7 linked regions of the Homo sapiens genome follow. The protein of the gene in region 5 interacts with the protein of the main gene of each other region in a biochemical or structural test. Each region holds a gene or a part of one and is shown on either strand. Other genes may lie near its edges.

Region 1 (2,380 bases), on a different chromosome or scaffold from region 5:
GCAGGAACCTCATGCGACCTGTGACCAAGATGTCCCATCCTCAGCACAGGGCCCACTCTGCCAACCAGTCTCAAGCACCAGCCCCTCAACACTGCCATCCACCTGGCTCTGGGCCAAGCCACCAATCCAGAGCTCCCTCAGGTCCTGGGACTAAGGCGGGGACATGACTGATCCCCTCAGAGCAGGCTCAGGCCTGGAGTCGGCCCCCAAAAGTTTCACATAGGGCCAGGCAGCCTCTGTGTTTCTTTCCCTGGTCCTGAACTGTGGAAATGCCATTAAACTCTCTCTATAATGTAACTGAAACTGCTGGCTGGGCGCAGTGGCTCCCACCTGTAATCTCAGCCCTTCCCGAGGCTGAGGTGGAAGGATTGCTCGAGGCCAGGTGTTCGAGACCAGCCTGGGCAACATAGCAAGACCCTGTCTCTATTTATATTGAAAAATAAAAATAACAAAAGAAAATGCTGTGGATGATCAAAACCAGGGTGGGCAGGACCCGGTGCTCACAGGGACACACATGGATGGTCCATTCGCTTTATTGGGTGCGTGTAGTGTTGTCATGACATCTCCTAAGGAACTGGGGGGCACGTTTGACACTCATGAGGTCAGAACAGGTCTGGTGGGCGGGGGGGGGGGGGGTCCCAGGGTGGTGAATACCCACAGCACACCCCCCCACCAAAAGAGAAAACGGGGAGAGGAGCCTGGCAGGCCAGACTCTGATCCCCATGGTCCACACAGGGAAACCCCCAACAGCGGCCTCGGCCCACCGCGGCAGAGCCGAGGGGCTGGCAGGCCTGGCCACCTCCCATTGCCCGATCAGCCTGCTTTAGGGTGTCATCTGGCCCCTCTTCACAACTGACAACTGTGGATGGGGGTGAATTTTAAAAAAAGGCGGGGGGGGGGGGTTCAGGAGGGTGAGCGGTGAGTTCACGGGGCCACGAGACACCACAGCTGAGTGGGGAAAGGGCTATATGTACAGGAGGGGCAGGGCTTGGGGCGGGCAGGGGAGCCTGGGCCCCTGGGGGACATCTTCAATAAATAAATAAATAGCTACAATAATAAATAAGGGTGACGGGCTAAGTCAGGAGCAGGGGTCTTGTGCCCGTGGCTGGTAGGGGCCGGGTCAGGCCCGGGTAGTTGGGGGAAGGTGGGGAAGACAGGGAAGAGGGGAAAGGGAGTGGGATGGCTCTCAGCAGGCGCAGTCCTGGTGCGGTGGCACCTGCTGGTCACTGAGCTGTGGGCCCTGCTTGGCGCCTGTGACCGCAGGGTCCGCCGTGTCCAACGACTCGGACATCTTCTCGCAGATGACATCCACCAGGCGCTCAAAGGTCTGCTTGACGTTAATGTTGTCCTTGGCGCTTGCCTCAAAGAACTCGAACCCTGTGGTCAGAGAAGGCAGGGATGAGGACCCTGGCCACGCCCTATGCCAACTCCCAGAGATGCTTCTCTGAGGAAAGGGAACACCTGGAGATTCCCAGTGCCAAGCAACTTATTGAAGGTACTGACAAATCCCACAGAGAAGAAACTTATTGAAGGTACTGACAAATCCCACAGAGAAGCAACATGGAACTGGGTCAGCTTTGCATTTCCTGCTTTTTTTTTTTTTTTTTTTTTTTGAGACAGGGCCTTGCTCTGCTGCCCAGGATGGAGTATGGTGGCGTGATCATAGCTCACTGCAGTCTCGACCTCCTGGGCTCAAGTGATCCTCCACCCCCACCTCTCAAATTGCTGGGATTATAGGTGTGAGCCAGCGCACCTGGCCTCCTGCCCTTCCTTCCTAAAATTGTGTCTCGTTGTCCTTAGGGACCTGGCAAGACATGCCCTGCAGCGTCCAGCCCAGCCCCGTGCACTGGCCCTGGAAGGCTCTGACACTCAAATCCAGCTGTGACCTCCCCCTGCTCACACACCCTCTGTGACTCCCTATTGCCCTCCAAAGAGTCCCAGCCTCTCAGCACATGGTTGAGGCCCTCTGTGATCGGCCACATTTCCTCCAGCTGACCCTCATGTTCCAGTCTTGTGAAATTATTACCAAAACACACAGGACCTTTCTCACTGCAAGCCTTTGCCCAAGCTATTTCCTCTGCCTGAAAGACCCTTCTTCACTACCCACCACTCCAGGAAGCCTGGCTCCTCTCATGTGCTCCTCCCATCCAGGTCCCTCCCTCTACCTCAGGGGTCCCTCGAGGCACCCCTAGATGCCTCTTGAGCCCAGCAACACCCAACAAAGCGTTGGACGGTGAGTGTCAGAATAAATCCTTAAACTTTCTGCATGGCAAACTCCTACACATCCCTCAGGATCCAACTCAAATGGCTCCTGGATGAAGGCTAGTTTGCAGAAAGTGTGAATTACCTGGCTTTAGCTGTAAGACCTTGGGTGTGTGCC
Region 2 (3,500 bases), on a different chromosome or scaffold from region 5:
GCCCAGGATGCCATCGAACTTGGCTGCGATGAAGGTGATGCCTGGCTGCTTGGTGGCCTCCCCAAAGACCTGCCTCTCCACTTTGACACCGCCCAGGGCAGAGGCTGACGACGCTGACTGGCAGGGCACCTGCAGGCCAGGGCAGAGTCAGTGGGCAGCAGACAGGCTGAGCCCTACACCACTCCCTGAGCATGAGGCTACAAAACCCAGTTCAATGGATGCCCATCCCACACACGATGGGGCCCAGAGGGCCCAGAAGAAAGGGCTGGAAACCCTGAGCTGAACACCGCTGGGGATGGGGACACGGGGTATGGCGGGGCCCTCTTCGTGGAAGTCATCAGGGCTCGGTTTACACGAGATGGGAACCAGGCAGGAGCACAGACGGGCAGGCCCCTTGCTCCGCTCCCTGCTCCGACCTCTTACTCCCACCACCAATGACAGGCAGGTCCTGCTCCTGCCCTCAGCGCTGGGAACAAGACACAGCCTGGGCCAGGAGCCCGAGAGATGGGGAACCTGCCGACCCCATCCCAAGCTCACAGCCATACTGCCCCCTTCCCCTTCTCTGCCTGTCCCCTCCCCCAGCCCTGGATGAGGCTGCAGAGAGAGAACACGGCCAGAGCAGGATGTGGGAAGGGAACGACAGCTTGAGGCTGACACGGGGCGGAGGGGGCAGAAGAGGGCGGAAGAGGGCAGACGGGGCAATTTCCTGTTCAGGCTGAGCAGGGTCCAGACAGGAGGGCTCTGAGGAGCCCCCAGTACAGACTGGACTCCAGCCCAGCAGGGAACTGTTAGGAGCAGCTTCAGCTGGAGGAAGGGGCCCTCTTCCCGGGTCCCTGGGCCTGCAGGGGGGCTCTGCTGCCCTCCTGGCCCGCTCCAGAGCTGGGGGCTGTGTCACCATCCCGTAACTCCTGAACCCCTTGTGGCCTGGTCCACCCCCAGCAGACAGCTCCGAGGTGAGAACTCACTGAGGCCCAGGCAGGGTGACAAGGGCCAGCTCACCCTCTCCTAGGGCAGGGAGTTGCTCTGCACAGGGCCCTGAGGATGGTGGATGCAGGCGGGGCCCCCAACAGCCACTGCTGCTCCCCCTCCCTTGCCCTCCCAGGCTCCTGCCGGTGACTCTCCGCCAGCAGCCCCCACAGCGGGTTCCTGGTACATCCTCCCAACCCCAAGCCTCCCCAAGCCCTCGGCCTGCTGCAGGGACCCTGTGCAGCCCCAGGTCCAGCCCTCAACACCTGCTGGCACCTCAAACCCAATGTGCCAAAAAGAGCCCGATCGATCTGCCCTGTCCTCCCTCCCACTCATTGTGGCCTGACTCCGGGGACCCCTGCCCCTGTACCCCCTGGGTTTGAGGCTGTCCCTCCAGCCTGCACACAACCAGGCCCATTCCCAGACCCCTCCTCACCCTGCTGACTGCCCCGGCCACCTGAGGGCTGGGGTTGGGCTGGGATCACCGAGCCCTCCCTTTCAACCACATACCCACGGTGGGTGAACCCCACACCCTGGCACCCTCGAGTCCTGGGAAAGGCCCCAGAGGGACTCACCGACACAGTGTCCTGGCTCAGGTACCCGGAGAGGCTGCCCGAGCCATAGTGGATGTCAAACGAGGTACCATTCTTCACGTAGGTGCTGGACTTGTCGCTGTTGTACTTGTGGTGGATCCCTGCCCCGGGCGACAAGGGGGCCCGCCGGTCATCCCGCAGCCCACGCCACGGCCTTAGCCCTCCCATCCCCCTACAATCTACCATGGAGCCCGCACCCCCCAAGCTGCCTCCCCAGGGTGGGATTTGGAGGGGATCTGAGGCCCACCATCATGCCAGAGCCCCGGGACTGTGGGCTGTGACCCCGGGCCTCCCTCCCAGCCACAGCCGGCTCCCTCTGTGGCCACCCCAGCCCCAGCCCTGCTGAGAGCAAGACCACAGCTGGTGGTTCACCCAGAAAGTCAGTGGCTGGAGCAGGGTGGAGGGCTGGCCTGGCTCACGGGGCCAAGAGGCAGGAGAATTGCGTTGCCCAAGTGATTCCTGAGGCAGCCCTGCAGCGACATCCCGGAAGGGCAGGACCTGGGCGACGGGGCCAGGGTTCGTGACTCACAGCAAGCGATGTCCAGCAGTTTGCAGTGGATGGAGGGGACCCACAGGTTGGAGGAGCCCGTGTCGAAGACGACTGTGAAGCACTGGGGGGGCGTCCCGATGCCAATCTCCCCGTAGTACTGGGCCTGGCAGGGGACAGGGTCCGTCAGGGATGGGAGAGGGGGCCCCATCTCCCCACTGGGCCTCAGAAGGCCCGGCTGTCCCCAGAGCCAAGGCCCATACTGGAGGGAGGGGCATCACGGGGCCCACAGCTGCCAACAGCCACCCACTCCCACCTGCTCAGCCTGCAGGGAAGATGGGCCAGGTCCCCAGCCCTCGGTCCTAATGCCCACGGGTACTTGGGGTCTCTAGACCCCTGGCTTCTGTCACCTACCCCTGCTCAATACATGGTGAGGCTGAGGACTTCCCCACGGAAAAGACAAGGCCAGAGGTCAAGCCAGGGTGGGGACAGACGTGGCCCTCAGCCTGAGCCCCGGGTGCAGGAAAGCCCGGCCTGGAAGACTCCCCTGGTGGCCCGCAGTCCAAGGTCTGAGAAAGGAAGTGACTTCCTCCCCAGGTTGGGGCCATGTCAAGGTCTGATTCTGGGTGTCTCAGTGCCTGCCCTGCCCTCCAGGGTGAACCCCAGGCTTGGAGGGCTTCCAGGCAGAGGGGTTCAGCTGGTCAAGGGGAGAAGGTAAGCCTTACAATCACTGCCTGCCCAGCAACCCTGCCTTAATGGCCCAGGGCCTCAGTTTCCCCGTGTGTACACAGGGATAGCAGGCGCAGGTGGGGGTGCTGACTCAGGGATCAGGCAAGTACAAGGGGTCCCATGCCGCCGAGCCTCTCAGGAGGCAGAGAGTAAGAGGGTCCTGGAGTTTGGGGTCGCCTGGGCGCCCGCTTCCCCCAGGATTGGAGCCTGGGCCACCGTCAGCCACCAGATTCCTGGCACCAGCCCAGCCCAATGTTTCTCCAACCGCCTGGCTTCACGGAGCAGCAGCAGCTGCTGACTCATGGCCCCACAGAAGTGACCACTGGCAGGGGGACACTCAGCAAATTTCCATGTGTGTGTGTGCATGTGTGCGCATGCGTGCATCTGCTTGCTCGCGCGCTAGGACAATCAGGAACTGGCCAGTCGGGACCAGGCACACGGCGCCTGGTTCCCCCCAGGGCCCCCCTGGCCCAGTCACATGCCTGTGAGTCTTGGGCTTCCTGTCACAGCCAGGACTCGGGCCAAGCAGGACAGAGGGCAAGGCTCCCCCACAGTGGGCCAGAGCCCCGAGGCTGGACAGTAGGCCCTGGCCTCGAACTGACCCCATAGAGCTGGGACCAGGCTGACCAAGCCCCAGCTTGCTAGGTGGCTTCCAGAGTGCTCCACCTTGGATCCTGCTTCCCCCTGAAGGAGTAGTGGGCACAGGAGGGGCTGTTGCGAGAGGA
Region 3 (3,500 bases), on a different chromosome or scaffold from region 5:
AGGCAGAGAGCGGGTTTTCCTTCGGATCGGCAATGACTTTTCCATCTCTTCTTTCAAGATCATCTTTCCCAAGTTGGAAGTAACCTGAGGAGGGAGAAAGGAAGATGGAGCCAAGACTTAGACACTTGAATGTTTCTTTTTTCTCTTTTTTTTTTTCTTTCTTTTTTTTTTTTTTTTTTTTTTGAGACAGGGTCTCACTCTGTCACCCAGGCTGGAGTTCAGTGGCACAAACATGGCTCACTGCAACCTTGACCTCCTGGGCTCAAGCAATCCAACCTCCTCAGCCTCCTGAGGAGCTGGGACCACAGGCATGCACCACCACACCCAGCTAGCTAATTGTTTTTTTTTTATATACAGATGGGGTTTCACCATGTTGCCTAGCCTTGTCTCAAAATCCTGGGCTCAAGTGATCCTCCTGCCTCGGCCTCCCTAAGTGTTGGGATTACAGGTGTGAGCCACTGTGCTGGGCCAATACTCATTTCTTATCTCTAAAAGGTCTAGAGTTGGGCCATGCTGCAGGCAGGACTGCGGACATTTCCCAAGTGGCTGGTTTGTGCCCTGGAGCTCACAGAGCCTCTTGTTCGTGGCTGACACATGGCCACAATGGGTTTGGCCACCCTTGAAAGCCAGGAGTCAGCGCTGCTTGGTAGAACTCTACCACGGCGGCCTCCCTGTCCTTGTCCCAGGTCACCCTGCTCAGAGCCTAGGCCCATGTCACTGTCAATGGTCTTTCCATGGTTCTCCCTCCTCCCCTGGAGGCCTGTAGCCCATGCTCTCCTTTTCTCTCCTCCCATGGATCACTCAGGCTGCTAGCTCCCAGCTCTGATGGGACCACCCTTTTCTGTGCTTTTGACCCTTATATCAAGTAGTGTCCCCCAGAAAGCAGCATAAAGTCCAGGTGTCCCTTCAAAAGCAAAATCCTGGGGTCTTGGCAAGAAGCGGCTCCCCAACATGTTCCAAAAAGCATGCTTTTCGGGTAGGAACCCCTTCGACTAGCTACAGAGCCAGAACTTCTGTCCCCAGAAAGACACACAGGGTGGGCTGGGCATAGTGGCTCACGCCTGTAATTCAAGCACTTTGGGAGGCCGAGGTGGGCGGATCGCTTGAGGTCAGGAGTTCGAGACCAGCCTGGCCAACACGGCAAAACCTTATCTCTATTAAAAATACAAAAAAAAAAAAAAATTAGCTGGGCGAGGTGGTGGCGTGCCTGTAATCCCAGCTATGCAAGAGGTTGAGGCAGGAGAATCACTTGAACCTGGGAGCGGAGGTTGCAGTGATCTGAGATCATGCCACTGCATGCCAGCCTGGGCAACAGAGCGAGACTCCTGCACAGGGGTGGAGGGTGGGGGTGGTGAGATGCTACCTTACTGAGTTCCTCTCTCTGACGCTCCCTGAGAGCCTTCATCTCCTCTCCAGAGTCGTCATCTTCCTCCTCCTCCTCTTCCTCTGCTCCCCTCCGAGACGCCTTCCGCTTCCTCCATTCTGTCTCTAGGAGACACAAGCAAAGGTGGGGAGGGAGTCACTCGCCATGGGGTCAGTGTGTGTTTACATGGCACAGCCTCTGTGCACTGCTCTGGGCTGGACCTTGATAAGGCCACTACAAAATTTTTTTAAAAAATAAAGTAGGGTCGGTAGATGACTCATGCCTGTAATCTCAACACATTGGGAGGCTGAGGTGGGAGGATCGCTTGAGCCCAGGAATTTGAGAACAGCCTGGGGTAATATAGTCTCTATAGAAAATTATTTTAAAAAATTAGCCCGGGGTGGTAGGGCATGCCTGTAGTCCCAGCTGCTGGGGACACTGAACTAGGTGGATTGCTTGAGCCCAGTAATTCGAGGCTACAGTGAACTGTGATGGAGTCACTGCACTCCATCCTGGGCAACAGAGTGAGATCCTGTCTTAATAAACAAATAAATATTTAAAAATAAAAATAGGCCGGGCGCGGGGACTCACGCCTGTAATCCCAGCACTTTGGGAGGCCAAGGCAGGCGGATCACGAGGTCAGGAGATCGAGACAATCCTGGCGAACATGGTGAAACCCCATCTCTATTAAAAATACAAAAAAATTAGCTGGGCGTGGTGGCGGGCGCCTGTAGTCCCAGCTACTCAGGAGGCTGAGGCAGGAGAATAGCGTGAGCCCGGGAGGCGGAGCTTGCAGTGAACCAAGATTAGGCCTCTGCACTCCAGCCTGGGTGACAGAGCGAGACTCTGTCTCCAAATAAATAAATAAATATAAATATAAATATAAAAATTAGCCAGGTGTGGTGGTGGGCACCTGTAATCCTAGCTACTTGCGAGGCTGAAACAGGAAAATCGCTTGAACTCAGGTGGTAGAAGTTGCAGTGAGCCGAGATCTCGCCACTGCACTCCAGCCTGGGCAATAGAGCAAGACTTCCTGTCTCAACATTTAAAAAGAGAGTCAGGCATGGTGGCTCACGCCTGTAATCCCAGCAGTTTGGGAGACAGGCGGGTGGATCACTGGAGGTCAGGAGTTTGAGATCAGCCTGGCCAACATAATGAAAACCCATATCTACTAAAAATACAAAAAATTAGCCAGGTGTGGTGGTGCATGCCTGTAATCCCAGCTACTCAGGAGGCTGAGGCAGGAGAAATGCTTGAACTCGGGATGTGGCGGTTGTGGTGAGCTAAGATTGTGCCACTGCACTACAGCCTGGGGCAACAGAGTGAGACTCCATCTCAAATAAATAAATAAATAAATAAATAAATAAAATAAAAATACAATAAAATAAGAGTAACATTTTCTCACCTTGCCATGAAGCTGGGTAGGCAACACACACATACACACACTCATGACTGAAATTCAGTGGGTGCAGCAACATGAATGGAACTGGAGGCCATTGTCTTAAGTCAAACAAGACACAGAAAGACAAAGACTGCATGTTCTCACTCATGAGTGGGAGCTTAATAGTGTGTACGCATGGATGTAGAGAGTGGGATGATGGACCATGGCAACTCAGAAGGGTGTGGGGGGTGGTGATGGGAAATTGCTTAATGGATACAACGTGCAGTATTCAGATAACAATATCATAAAAACCCTGACTTCACCACTGTGCAATCTATGCAGGTAACCAATTACACCTGTACCCCATAAATGGATAAAAATAAAAATTAAAATAAAATTCGCTGGGGACCAAACCATCTATCATTTATCTTTCTCTTTCCCAGTGCTCCCCTCACAGAGCCTGGGATGCAGAAGTTTGATACATGTCTGTTGAGTCAGGAAATAAATGAATGGAAAGCAAATGAATGACCAATAAAAGGGCCACTTACACCAAGCGCTATGGGAACACAGAGAGTGAGTGAGCAAGGAGCCTGGGGGCTCCTGAAGGTAGGAAAAAGCCCACGAGGACACCATAGGGCAGGGGTGGGAGTGGGTTCACGGACTGCAGCAAGAGCCAAGGGGAGGGAGTGCAGGAGTTTCCCAGACCACCCATTCCACTCTCCCCATCTCTCCTACCCACAACAGCCAGAGACGGGG
Region 4 (2,494 bases), on a different chromosome or scaffold from region 5:
CAAGCTGGTGGTAACTAGATTGAAGATGCTGGTCACCTGCAACCCCTTTCCTCCACCTGTTCATGAGTCAGCATGGCTACCTCTCCTCATGATAAAAGAGCTGGGTTGCTGAGTTCTGGGGATGCAGAGATTTCTCAGTCTTCCTCCTCTCCCTCCCTAACCACTTTCCCCAGCTTCCTCCAAGGTGAATCATCTTCTAAGAACCTGTTCCTCCAGCCCTGCAGGAGTACTCAGCCCCAGGGGCTAGCTCAGTTTACCCTTCTTCCTCTTTCCCTAACAATATACCTGGCATCAGACTGCATCTGAAACATGGGTCAACACATGTGCATGACTGAGCATGTTTCCTCAGGCCTGCAGCTCCGCTGCCAGAGAAGCTTTTTAGCAGCTAAGGCCCAGAGGTAGGCTGGGAAAGTGGGCTGGGTCAGAGGCAAGAAGCTTCCATGGCTAGCTTCCTAAGTATTTTTTTTTGACCCTCAAGACTGTGATATCTATAAGGTTCTCTTGCCTGAATTTATAATCCCCAAACCTCAATTTACTCTCTCCTCATGTATCCCTCAAATGGTTCCCCTCTGTAGTACTTTCCCAGTATTACAGAGCAGAGGTTCACCACCCACGAGCCTTCCTCACTTTTAGTTTTACAATGAACAGTATGGAGTTTTTCTGCTGGCAGTTAAGACTTCAGAATCAGAATCAATCTTACATACATTTAACTCTATTTTACAGATGAGGAAATAGAAATCCAGAGAGGCTAAATGACTTAATCAAGGTTATACAACAGCTCTGCTGGGACTGAGTAGAGTGAGAACCCAGATATCTTGACTCCTAAACCAGTGCTCGTCCCACTATCCCATGATACTTTCAAAAGCAACATGCTGGAAGAGAGAGAGAAGGTGCCCATTTTCTGTGAATAATGTTCATCAATCTTTATATTATTTGAGAGCCAGAGCAAACTGTAAGAGATACTAAGTAATGGAGGCTAAGGGGGCACTGTAGTTTTAGGCAAGCAAGTCAATTTTTCTTTTTAAGGATTCTCTAAACCTGCCATAATGGAAACATGAAGCAATAGCAGCCTAAGGGACAGAACACTTAGAAGCACAGAAAACATGTCTCATTCAATCTACCTTTCCCAACTACGTTAGGTTAGCCTTGGGATGTTAAACCTGCCAAACTATTCCCAAGGCTCAGCCTAATCAATTTTGGGACATTCTCTCCCAAAAGGAGAAATCACATCTCTCCAGTTTCTCACACAAAAAAAGCATTTGCAGCATTATCCAATCCTAGCCTTTCCTATTTCTGGGCCCTACCTGGACTACAGGGAGTGTGTGGAAGTGTCAATCTAACGAAATAAATAAACTTAGAGCCCCTTTTCAACCTACATTACCTTCTCAGCAGCCCCCAGCAGAATCACAGTCATTTCTGGCTAGCAAGCTGAGAAGATCTGACTAGGTGCCCATTTCATCCCTGCCTATAATATATAAACGTCCAGTGGTTGAGGAAGGGGAGGAGAGGGGGGCTCAGGTTACCCCGCAAGCTTGCTGGTGACGAGCGAGGACTTTCTCTGGGGCAGATCCTGTGGGGTGGGGATGTGATCACCAGTCACCAGGTTCTTGTCTGGTCCTGCACTTGGCAGCTGCTTATTCTTCATCTTGGCTTTGGCCATGTTGTAGTCTCCTGAGTCAAAGTACTTTTGCTAAGAGATAAGAGGGAGGTTTAGGTGAGTGAGGACTCTGGCCTTCCTCAAAAACAAGGAGACTCACATCTCACATCCATTATAAACCCTCATGCACACTCGGATCTTTCAAGAAGTCTTCCTTGATTAACCTCATGCATACACAGTTTAACATTAATTACATGTACTTATGTCTTCTCCCCAGTGTGTTCTGACTTTTTCAGGTACATAAGCAATTTCCCAGCTAGAGTATATAGTTTTGGAGTCAAGGGATAGCCCCTGCCATCCTTTGTACTCCACTCAGTAGAGGATCGTTCCACCAAAATCACTTATTCATAAAGGGTAACTGAGGACCTTACTGGGTACAGGGCAATAGCCTGGAACTGGAGAAACAGAAATGAATAAGATATAGAGAAGGATAAATATGGGGCTATCCTAGCCACCAGGAGATCAACCACAAGCCAACAACCTCAAAATGATTATTCTCCCAGACCAGGAATAGAAACTGGGCCTGTTCATGAGGATAATGTATTTTCCTTCTGACTCTCACAGCTCCCACACATGTTCCATGACTGTGACAGCCTGCCCACGCCTGCCTTGCCTCCAGCAAGGTAAATGCAAATCAGCATCACATTATCATCTGTGACTAAGACTCAATAACTGGGATCCTCCACAGGGATGTTTCACCCACCATTTCATCCGCACAGAGAAGCACACTCCAATGTAATGATTTATAATCCTACAGTCATTGCAGAGGAGAGTAAGGAAAATAAAAAAATTTTTTTTTGAGATGGAGCCTCGCTATGTTGCCCAGGCTGGAGTGCA
Region 5 (3,500 bases):
TCTTGTTAGAAAGATTCAGCTTGGACTCCTACCTCAGAAGGCATTTCATAAGCCTCATTGTCAGGATCCACAGGCATATCTTCCAGAATTCCTTCCTGTGGGGCTCCTTCTTCATTCTAATATTTAAAGTAAGAAGCACAAAAAGAACATGATGAAGTAGCATTTTTCACTTTTAAAAATCAGAACCATGTTTTGGAAAAATCTTACATATAGGGATGTTGGCCACGGATCTTGAAAATGGCACACCTTAATATTACTACTGGCATTCTAAACTCCACAATGCCTCCGGGGAAACATTGCGGCAACATGGGTTATCAACCCTCAAAGTATGTAAACTTTTTGCTCAAGTAATTTACTATTTAGGAAATAATCCACAGCTATAGTCCAAAGATATTTTTCACAAGATCAATGACAGCAGGAAACAAAATTTTTAGAATTGTTAACTAAATGTTCAATGAATAATGAAGAGTTAAAAAATTATTGCTGGGTGCAGTGGTTCACTCCTGTGATTTCAGCACTTTGGGAGGCTGAGGCAGGTGGATCATTTGAGTCCAGGAGTTCAAGACCAGCCTGGGCTGTTACAATGAAACCCCATCTCTACTAAAAATACAAATAAATAGCTGGGCATGGTGGCACATGCCTACAGTCCCAGCCACTTGGGAGGCTGAGGCAGGAGGATCACTTGAGCCTGGGAGGTAGAGGCTACAGTGAGCCATGTGCATGCCACTGCATTCTAGCCTGGGTGACAGAGGGAGACCTTGTCTTAAAAAAAATTATCATTCAACTACTCAGTAGATTATGATAAAGACCTGTATTACTATTACCTGAGAATTATGTAACAACTACCTATTTATGGTATAATATTTAGCAGGCTATAAAGTGTTGTCTATATTATAGATACAACCTACACAGAATTCAGACGCAAAGGTAAAAAGTTTGGAAGAAAACACAATAAAATATGAAAGTTATTTTGTTGGATAGTATGTATGTTATTTTGACTTTTTTTCTAAGTGTTTAACTTTTATAACCACTTATAATGTAAAAGCATACATATTTAACACATTAATTTTAAATGACAATGAAGAAACAAATTCTTTTCTGAAATTTGAAGACTGAGACTATACATATTGAAGGAAAATAATCAAATACATGGTCAGAAAATTTTTCTAGGTATCTCTTCCTAGACAAAGAATACTACAAAACTCAGCCTGAAATGGTCATGGCTTTGTTGGTATTCTTCACTAAATACCTTTTGTTGCTTTGCATTTATTTCAGCAAAGTAATTATAAGAAGATAAAGGTAAGTGAAAATTCAAAGAACAGAGAGGCAATGTGAGCCTAAAGGGACTTGGAGAAAGAGATCAAATAATCCCTCAGCCAACGCGGCTGATTTTCAACAACATGTCTGATGTAAAAAAGCTTCCCCATGTCTTCACATGGAAGTGACTGACAGGGACGCAGAAGTATAAGAAAATGGCTAACAGTAAGAAAAGGTCACACTAAAGATCATGCTTATGGTAGGTGGGCAGAGAAGCTTACAGATCATTCTGCCCTTGCCAATGCCCTTTTTATAAACTAAAAAAAATCCAAATAATATATAAATTAAATAAAATATGAACCACCCCAAACTACCTCACTTTAAAATGTGGAGTAAACATACTGTTTTCGTAGTGTTTCACTTCTTGGTAGATACGCCTCTGCTGCAGGATGGCTAGGCACAAGGCCTTCCATGTCACAGGACTTGAGCTCAAGTCCTAGCTTCTCTAGATGACAGAGCTTTTGTGATGCTGAGAAGTTTCCTATGCTTTTTCTGAGTGTCAATTAGTCTTAGTGATCAAACGGGACAGCAAAACCTTCTTTACAACAGGGAGAAGGAAACGACATCATTAACTTTCTCATTAATATTTAGATTACTGTTAGGATATCCAAGTATAAGGGAAATAAGGCAAATTTTTTTCCATGATTTTGAAACTGACAGAGATTTGATTTTCTAATATAATTTGTTAGAAAATTTTGATATGGACCAGACAAGTAAATATGGCAGACCTACCCTGTTTGTTGTTTGATGATCAAAAAGGAGTTGTTATGACGGAACTAAGACTGATGGATATTACTGGATTTGTTTATATGTTATTTGGCTGAACTTTGAAGGATGTACACAGATGTGTAGGTTAGGTGAGTGTGTGTGTCTGCATGGTTCCAGCCTGGGTGAGTGGGTGTGTACAAGAGCACCCTGCAGTAATGGAACAGCGTCCTGTCCGGGGTGGGTTCCCATATTGCTCCCTGAGCTGCCAGGATAGGCTCCAACCACCTGCGGCCTCCACCGAAATAATTAGGTAAGTTATTTGACTTGTTTGTATTAATCTTTCTTAAACGTATATATAGCTCACATTAATTTCAATGTTTAATGTCAGAAGTGATTTATCTTTATTTAGGAGTTTGATGGTGTTTTTGTGTCCAGAAATTTGCCATAGGACTTAATTCTTGCTTATATCAATTAGCCAATGGTAAAACTGGTTTTGTTATATGTTGTTTTGCTTCAAGTCACAGTTTCCAGAAACTATTGATGAAGTTAAGTGAGGATTTACTGTATTATGTGCCCTCTGATGGAAGTACATACACATCACCATCTTAAACTAAGACTGTACTAGTTTAAGTGGGCTATTGTTCACTGATCCAATAACTTCATCAAGTGGGAACAAGCTACACTAGGGATGACAGCACAATCCTATTCTAGAGTCCAAATCGACAATAGGGTTTACGACCTCGATGTTGGATCAGGTCATCCTAATGGTGTAACTGCTATTAAAGGTTCGTTTGTTCGACAATTGAAGTCCTACATGATCGGTGAGGTCAGGAGATCTATAGCATCCTGGCCAACATGGTGAAACCCCATCTCTACTAAAATACAAAAAGTTAGCCGGGCGTGGTGGTTCTCCTATAGTCCCAGCTACTCGGGAGACTGAGCCAGGGGAATCACTTGAACCCGGGAGGTGGAGATTGCAGTGAGCCCAGATCACACCATTGCACTCCAGCCTGGTGACGGAGTGAGACTCCGTCTCAAAATAAATAAATAAATATATAAATAGAAAAAGAAAACAAAAAAAGAAAAGCCCTACGTGATCCGAATTTGAATTTGATTAACATTTAACTATCACTGACAACTTACAGCAAATATAAGGTGGTGAAAAACATGTTCATTGCTTACAACAGTGGCTACAATCAGCAAATTTTGCACTGTGAGAAACTACACAAGACAAAGAATACGTCTAATTTCAATAAGTAAATTGCAACTAAAAAGAAGTTAGTGGGAACCTGCCGCTTAAAGTAGAAGTGAGAGAGCATTAGCCAATTGCAACCTAAGAACTTTATTTCATTCTCATTGGGAACCCTACATAAGCAAATGGAAAACACATATGAGGTAGTTGGGGAAATTTGAACACTGACTTGATATTTAAGAATTATTGTTTATTTCTTTAGGTGTGATGATATATTGCAGTT
Region 6 (3,500 bases), on a different chromosome or scaffold from region 5:
AGCTGCAAAGGTCACGGCGCCCACCCAGAGCTGGTAGATGGGGCGCTGGCGCCGCAGAGGTGGGCCCCACAGCCTTCCACACAGGGGCATCTGACCCACGGCCCGGCCCCTTGCAAAGCCAAGGCCGCAGAGGGGGAAGGTGCAGGAGCTCTGAGATGAAAGAGGTGATGAGTTTGCGGCAATGTAGGAATGAAATACATCGGCCACAGGAGGACGCAGGTGCAAACCACCGAAATAAAGCCATTGCCACACAGGCGGACAGGACGGGGCTCAGGGAGAACCGCTGCTTTTCTCGGGTGCGATCATGGTGGGGTGTCGGGACATGAGGTGAAATGTGCTGGGGCGTGTGAGGGTGCCTCAGTGTGCTTCCCAGCATTCATCCAGGAGAAAACAGACAATGCGTGACACGGCAACAGACGTGTGCACACATGACACAGAAACGCACGTGCACATGCAGAAACACATGCACACATGCGCACACGTGCACACACGACACAGAAACGCGCACACACGACGCAGAAACATGCACACACGACGCAGAAACGCGCACGCGCGCATACACGACGCAGAAACGCACGCGCGCACACGACGCAGAAACGCGCACACGTGCACACAGAAACGCACACACGACGCAGAAACGCGCACACGTGCACACGCAGAAACGCGCACACGTGCACACACGACGCGGAAACGCACACACGTGCACACAGAAACGCGCACACGTGCACACGACGCAGAAAAAGCAAACGGCACGATGCGGTTTCAAGGTGGTGGCCGGAGCCGCCTCCTTGGTGCCCTTTGCCATTTTGCCGCCCGTGGGAATCCTGGGGCAGAAATACAGCAGCACAAAGGCTTTGGGAGGGGCTGGGGGACACCCGAATGGCCAGCTCCATGCATGGGGACACAAGCATCCAACCTCTGAGACTCAGCCGCTGAGCCAGCCCACAGAGGGTCAGGAGCTCTGCCCGCCAGCAGCCACCTGCCCCTCCAGGCTCCAGGCAGCCACTGCCCCCACTCCTGGGGAAGCCCAGTGATCCCAGTCACAGCTCCCTGACTCCGGGGAGCAGCATTCACCCCGAGTCTGCTCTGAGGCCAGACATCCCCTCATAGGCCACCTCCCATGCCGAAACCCTACACACCCACGGGGCTGAGAGGAGCCAGGGCTGCCACTCAGGCCTCGGCACCGAGAAGTCCGGCAATGCCCGGACCCCTGCTCCCTGGGGGCCCAGATGGCACGTTCAGGCTCCCATGTCAGGGCTGCTTCTGAGAAGGGCGGGGTCTTGAAGCACAACCCCCTCCACTCCCCATGGCCCGCTCCCCACAGAACCCACCCAGGGGCTCAGGGCCGCAGACCCCCGTAAGTCAGGTCCCTCGGCCCGTGAGCCCAGCGCACTCACTTGATCTTGCTGAAGACGATGTCCACGTCAGTGACGGTCACGTTCCTGCCGTCGATCACCTGGCAGTCCTTGCACAGCTTCGACCAGTTCTTGCCGTGCATCTCCCTCCCGGTGGCCCTGGCGTCCCCGTGCACGGCAAAGCGCCGGAAGGCCTCCTCCAGGGCACTGAGCTCAGGGGATGCGGCTGCCCCCTCACCAGCACCCTCCGATTCCAGCGACAGCCTCTTGGCTGCCCGGTCCTTCGAGGGGTCCCCCGGGGACTTGGGGGGCGTCCTGTTGGCAGCTTTGGCAGGCTTGGCCTTGTCAGCCATGTTGCTATGGAGGAAGGAGAGGAGAAAGGTGTCACCCGGGCCATGTCCCAGCTGAGCCGGGTGCAGCCCAGGAAACCCCGCCGTACCAATGAGCACCAGGACGTGGCGAGGGCTGAGATGGGCAGGCCCTCCTGGGGCTGGGCGTGAGGCCCCTCAGACCCTTGGAGCCAGCTGCCCCGCAGGCACGCATGTCCAGCCCCGGGCAGAGTGGAGCCAAGCGAGGCCTTGCCCACTGCCATCATTGGGCCAAGGACCCCCTAAGCCAAATAAAGCCAGCAGCACGCAGAGCCCAGGGTGGGAGCTGAGCTGGGTGCCAGGGGCTCCAGGCCTAGGAGGCTCAGTGTGTGACTGGCAGCATCAGAGCCTATTCCGGGTCCCCTCCCCGCCGCAGTTCCACTGTCCCTCCTGTGGACGCCCGCTCTGCAGCTCTGGAGGACACCTCGGGATCACGCACTCCCCAGGGTCTGTGACGTGCTGCCTTCCTCTGGGAGGGTCCACAGCAGTCGTGCGACAGCCGCTCCCTCCCCACTGCAGAGCCTCTGACCTTAGATGGAGCTTTAGGCTGGGGAGGGTGCGTGGTGGCCCTGGGGGCGCCTCAGGATGCTCTTCCCAGGAGCCCTGGGCCTGGCCCCGGCCAGGGGAGGGGACTGCCAGTGTGCAGGGCTGAGGCAGTGGTGGGGGCACCGGTGTCAGGGCGCAGGGACGCCCTCTGGACTTTGCAAGGCGCCCGCCCCCAGAGTAGGCGGCTGGGCCATGGGGTTGAGAAGACTGAGGGGTGCCACCCAGGCAGGGCTTGGGGACGCAGGGCTACGCCACAGGGCAGGGCTGCCGAGGCCACCTCCCTACCATGCATGGGCTTCGGTAAGACCCAGTCAGGCCCTGAAGGACTCAAGGCTGAGGTGCTGGACTCAGGGCATGAAAGCTGCTTCCCAAAGGGGCCTGGACACCAGGTGGGCCGTCAGCACTGCACTGAGAGCTGAACATGGCCTCTGCCCACAGACACAAGAGCCGGTGGGAGGGTCCGTGCCGAGGACACAGGTAGGTGTCCCAACCCTGGGACTCACGAAGCCCTCTCAGATCTGGAGTTCTCAGCGCCAGTCATGGCCAAAGTGTGGCTCTGTAATCGTGGGGTCCTGAGTGTGGCCGCTGCTGACCCTGAGATCCCACAAATTCCCCCAAAACAGCCAGAAAAAAATCCAGGGGCACTCCCTCCACTGAGGACCTTAAGGGCCTCAGGCCCCACCCACTCACCCCTTTCCCTGGAAGGCACCAAAAATGCAGATGCCAACCCAGCGGAGGATGCAGGGGCAGGATCCTGGTGGGGGCTGGGCCGCGTGGGGGCAGGATCCTGGGGGTGGAAGGGCCGCCTGGGGGCAGGATCCTGGGGGTGGAAGGGCCAGGTCAGGTGTCGAGCTGGGAACAGTTTCCAGTTTTATCGCTGACACCATTTCTTTGTCTGAAACAGGAGCTTCTCACAGGCCTGGTCTGTGTTTCCCCTGGGCCTCTGCAGCAGGGGTCGCTGGACAGGAGGAGCAGCTGAGAAATTACCAGAAGCAATGGTGGGTTTTGTGAGCACCCAGAACAGTGGTGGGTGTGCGGGTCAGAGAGAAAGAACCTTCTGGGATGCTTCAAACTCAGGGCTGCGTTCTGTGGTCTCATCTCCTGTGGGGACGCGCCTGAACAGAGACCCTTATTCACACACCTCAGAGAGTCATCTGAGAACCTGCACCCCGTGGGGCCCGCCTGGGAGCAAAGGGATGAGGGAAGCCCCTCAGAGCCACCTTCAGGGCTC
Region 7 (3,500 bases), on a different chromosome or scaffold from region 5:
CATTCTTTAAGATTAGTTCATTTACAGCTTTTATGGAAACAATTTTGTCCGACATCTAAATATTGGTAGTTCTCCACTAAGCTGGATGGCTAAGTATCAATACTAATTCCATAACCATTTCTACTTCTGTAAGTAGTCAAACAAATGGAATCCTAGCTCTCTTAATTCCTTTCCAGGGCAAAGTAGAATGTAAAAGACTCCAATTCTTCATCCAAATCTGACAAACCTACTGGTATCTGTTAAATGCCATTTCAGTATGTATTATCAAACTACCAGCACGTCTCTGACCTAGAAGAACTCTGTCAACATAAAAGACATATATATAAATACTTCACAAAATACCATCACATTTGTAGAAAATAAAAAACTTCACAAAAAAGCATCTTCTGTTTATCAAGAATATATACATACATATCCCTGACTATTGCTCACTTAGTCCTATAGAATAGAAACATGCCCCATCCTCCATGACGTTTTTCACATTGCATGCCTATATCAAACATCTCATGTACCCCATAAATATATACACCTACTATGTACCCTCGAAAATTAAAAAGAAACAGTGTTGATGAAAAAATGCCCTAGTGGGGTCCAGAGAACTTCATTTATTAATAGTTTCTTCCCATTCAGTCAGTCCATCCTCCGGATTGACAAGTTTCTCCCTCAACACAAATCTATGTTCCTGGTTAAAATACCATAATCCTCAACACCTTCAGACCAGTTTCCTATACTCAACTGAGTACACGGTGCAATTTCCTATATTACTATATAGTACATCTCTTAAGCACGACATACACATGCTTTTCACTATTAACAATATTCAAAATAGATCATGCCTTCCAACTCTCTATTCACATTCTCTGCTCATGCTGTTCCCCTCCTTTTTGACTTGCTGAATGTACGACTCACCCTTCACACTCAAATCTCTCTAATTCTCCCTGTTCCTCACCTCCAGAATTATTTCTTCAGCTATGTTACCTATTATGTGCTAGACATTATTAGCACAAAGAAAAACAAGACTGTCCTTGCTCCAATGAGAGCTCATCATTCATATTCAAGTTGCGCTGCCGCCAAAACAAAAAACTGTATACACCATTGAAGGAAAACAGTATTACTACATTGTTATACTACGAGTTATACGTCAATGTCCCAACCACAACATGAGCAAGGACTGGGTCTTAGTCACTGTTGTGTATCCGTAAGTCAAAGCACAATAGTGATACACATTAGGTGCTCAAAAATATTTCCTGAATTTAACTGGATTCCTCTCCTCAGTTAATTGTGGTGGTTGGCAGAGTGAAACATAAAACATGATTAAAAACCACCACCACCACCACCACCACCAAAGCTGTGTCTTATACTGAACAATTTCAGAATAAGTTCCTTCCTTGTTGTTACATTTTGTAGTGAATCACCTTACTCTTGTTAACAGCTTCTAGAACGCATCCTTTCCTATTTATATCTTAAAAAAGTTTTATTAAATAAAAACTGATGGGTCTTGCTCCAAACCACCAAAAACACAGACTCAAAACTCATTGGGGATGAATTTGTTAGACCACTATGAGGAATAGGTTGCTCGGAGGCAGAACTGGCTATAGGGAAGCAAGTCATACCATAATTACTGATTTTCACCGTATAGCCCGTTGTAATGGGAGCAACCACAGCAGCTGGTTTTTCATTATCAAGAAGTTCTGCTTTCTTCTGTGATTTCTGTTGCATCTTGTTCTTGATTTCTGTCTCAATCTTGGATTTTTCAGCTGTAAGGGCATCACGTACTCTTTTCCTAGTAGCCTTTTCCAGCAACACCTTTACCTCTTCTAGATCTTTCTGTAGCTGTGTTAAGACAAAAAATAAGTTAGCTATGATAAATAAGGAAATGGCTTGATATTGTGCGTATCACTCATTTCAACTTACTGAAATAAGCACTAAGAATTAAGAAGTTCATCTAAATTTTCTAGGATTGAGTTGCAACTTCAATTCTTCCATCTGGCTTATTAACTGTAATTAACTCAAGCTTCCTTTTTTTCAAAAGGAAAACTTTGAACAATCTTGAACAAACAATAAATAGGTCTTCAAACCTAAATTTTCCAGTTTATGTTTTAAAATATTTACAAGAAACGTCTGCGACCTAAAAAGTAAAACAAAGAACTTTTTTTTGACAAAGGATTCATAGATTTCCTTGTAACATCTAATCCGAGTGTCATTAGATGTTAGACACTTTTAAAATATTTAAGAGATGAGAGAACATGCAGTGACCATGGTAAAATGCTTTTATAGCAAACTTAACTGAGGTAATGAATGCTCCACTTTCTGTCACTGATTGGTCTTCATTATCTTCCCACCTCAAATACCTCACATAAAAAAAGTCTTAATTTTTAAGACAAAAGATAAAAAAAAAAATTTCTGCTTTTGAGGAAAAGTCTTGCTCTGAAGCTGGGTCAGTCTTACACTCAGAAGTGTAGGAGTTGGTTGCACAGAAGGTGACAAAAGACCGAAAATGCAACATACTCTTGGAAATTATCTTTTGAAAAAGCCACCACGTTCTCATTTTCTTCTCTTGCCAATCCATCATCTATTAAAGTCTACTACTTTCTACTTTCTAGAGATAGAGGCAACATTTTATGAAATTCAAGAGTTAAAGACAATGTTAGAAAATTATTGAGCCTAAGTTTTTTTTCCCCCAATTACCCTCTGACATACTGCAAATACACAAGATCTTTCCAAACAGCTGTTTCACTTTTCTTACAATAACTTTACACTCTGGCTTGACACTACCAACTTGACCAAAAAAATCTTGTGTCACAGCTTGATATCAAAAGCTCAATTTAAAAAAGTCTTTTAGTGCTTTATAACTCAGAATATCAGACGCACAACAGAGTTTGAAAGCCTGTTTCTTAATAGTCTTATAAAATGCAATAACAGAACTAATTCTTTTCTTTTACTACAAGTCTTTTGTTATCTCATTTAACTCAGATGCCCTAGTTTTGCCTATCTATAACAGATGACATGGTATAAAAAGTTCAACTCTGGCCAGGTGCAGTGGCTCACACCTGTAATCCCAGTACTTTGGGAGGCCAAAGCGGGTGGATCACTTGAGGTTAGGGGTTCGAGACCAACATGACCAACACGGCGAAAGCCCGTCTCTACTTAAAATTCAAAAATTTGCCGGGTGTGGTGGCACGTGCCTGTAATCCCAGCTACTCGGGAAGCTGAGGCAGAAGAATCGCTTGAACCCGGGAGGCAAAGGTTGCAGTGACCCGAGATCGCGCCATTGCACTCCAGCCCGGGCAACAAGAGCAAAACTCGGTCTCCCAAAAAAAAAAAAAAATCAACTCTGCCCAACCCTCTTGTCCACACTCTCGACCCTTCCAAGAACAGCTCATATTACTATGACAAAAAATCTTGCAAACTCATCTTTTGAGCATAGAACCAAAATGTTTCAGTTCAAAGTAATATTTTTATTGTAATGGTTTCAAAAAAACGCTGATTCTACAACTCCT

What was found.
Region 1: the proteins of SNCA (region 5) and RAB3A form a complex in vitro, tested with the Homo sapiens proteins (one study listed by BioGRID).
Region 2: of the proteins of SNCA (region 5) and CTSD, one has a biochemical effect on the other in vitro, tested with the Homo sapiens proteins (one study listed by BioGRID).
Region 3: the proteins of SNCA (region 5) and DMTN form a complex in vitro, tested with the Homo sapiens proteins (one study listed by BioGRID).
Region 4: the proteins of SNCA (region 5) and ENSA form a complex in vitro, tested with the Homo sapiens proteins (2 studies listed by BioGRID, with this or other methods).
Region 6: the proteins of SNCA (region 5) and TPPP form a complex in vitro, tested with the Homo sapiens proteins (one study listed by BioGRID and IntAct).
Region 7: the proteins of SNCA (region 5) and CACYBP form a complex in vitro, tested with the Homo sapiens proteins (one study listed by BioGRID).

What each region holds. Positions count from the first base shown.
Region 1 is NC_000019.10:18,196,284-18,198,663, forward strand, and holds the end of RAB3A (ras-related protein Rab-3A), read right to left. Parts: intron 1,378-2,380; coding exon 1,187-1,377; 3' UTR 501-1,186; downstream 1-500. UniProt on the Homo sapiens protein: The small GTPases Rab are key regulators of intracellular membrane trafficking, from the formation of transport vesicles to their fusion with membranes.
Region 2 is NC_000011.10:1,757,428-1,760,927, forward strand, and holds part of CTSD (cathepsin D preproprotein), read right to left. Parts: exon of another isoform or gene 2,921-3,500; intron 2,213-2,920; coding exon 2,089-2,212; intron 1,661-2,088; coding exon 1,542-1,660; intron 130-1,541; coding exon 1-129. UniProt on the Homo sapiens protein: Acid protease active in intracellular protein breakdown. Plays a role in APP processing following cleavage and activation by ADAM30 which leads to APP degradation.
Region 3 is NC_000008.11:22,070,314-22,073,813, reverse strand, and holds part of DMTN (dematin), read right to left. Parts: coding exon 3,480-3,500; intron 1,489-3,479; coding exon 1,364-1,488; intron 85-1,363; coding exon 1-84. UniProt on the Homo sapiens protein: Membrane-cytoskeleton-associated protein with F-actin-binding activity that induces F-actin bundles formation and stabilization. Its F-actin-bundling activity is reversibly regulated upon its phosphorylation by the cAMP-dependent protein kinase A (PKA).
Region 4 is NC_000001.11:150,624,119-150,626,612, forward strand, and holds part of ENSA (alpha-endosulfine), read right to left. Parts: intron 2,409-2,494; coding exon of another isoform or gene 2,361-2,408; intron 1,691-2,360; coding exon 1,524-1,690; coding exon of another isoform or gene 1,520-1,523; exon of another isoform or gene 1-1,519. UniProt on the Homo sapiens protein: Protein phosphatase inhibitor that specifically inhibits protein phosphatase 2A (PP2A) during mitosis.
Region 5 is NC_000004.12:89,729,162-89,732,661, forward strand, and holds part of SNCA (alpha-synuclein), read right to left. Parts: intron 117-3,500; coding exon 33-116; intron 1-32. UniProt on the Homo sapiens protein: Neuronal protein that plays several roles in synaptic activity such as regulation of synaptic vesicle trafficking and subsequent neurotransmitter release.
Region 6 is NC_000005.10:676,353-679,852, forward strand, and holds part of TPPP (tubulin polymerization-promoting protein), read right to left. Parts: exon of another isoform or gene 3,157-3,500; coding exon of another isoform or gene 2,960-3,156; intron 1,713-2,959; coding exon of another isoform or gene 1,709-1,712; coding exon 1,398-1,708; intron 265-1,397; exon of another isoform or gene 1-264.
Region 7 is NC_000001.11:175,002,947-175,006,446, reverse strand, and holds part of CACYBP (calcyclin-binding protein), read right to left. Parts: intron 1,834-3,500; coding exon 1,614-1,833; intron 1-1,613. UniProt on the Homo sapiens protein: May be involved in calcium-dependent ubiquitination and subsequent proteasomal degradation of target proteins. Probably serves as a molecular bridge in ubiquitin E3 complexes. Participates in the ubiquitin-mediated degradation of beta-catenin (CTNNB1).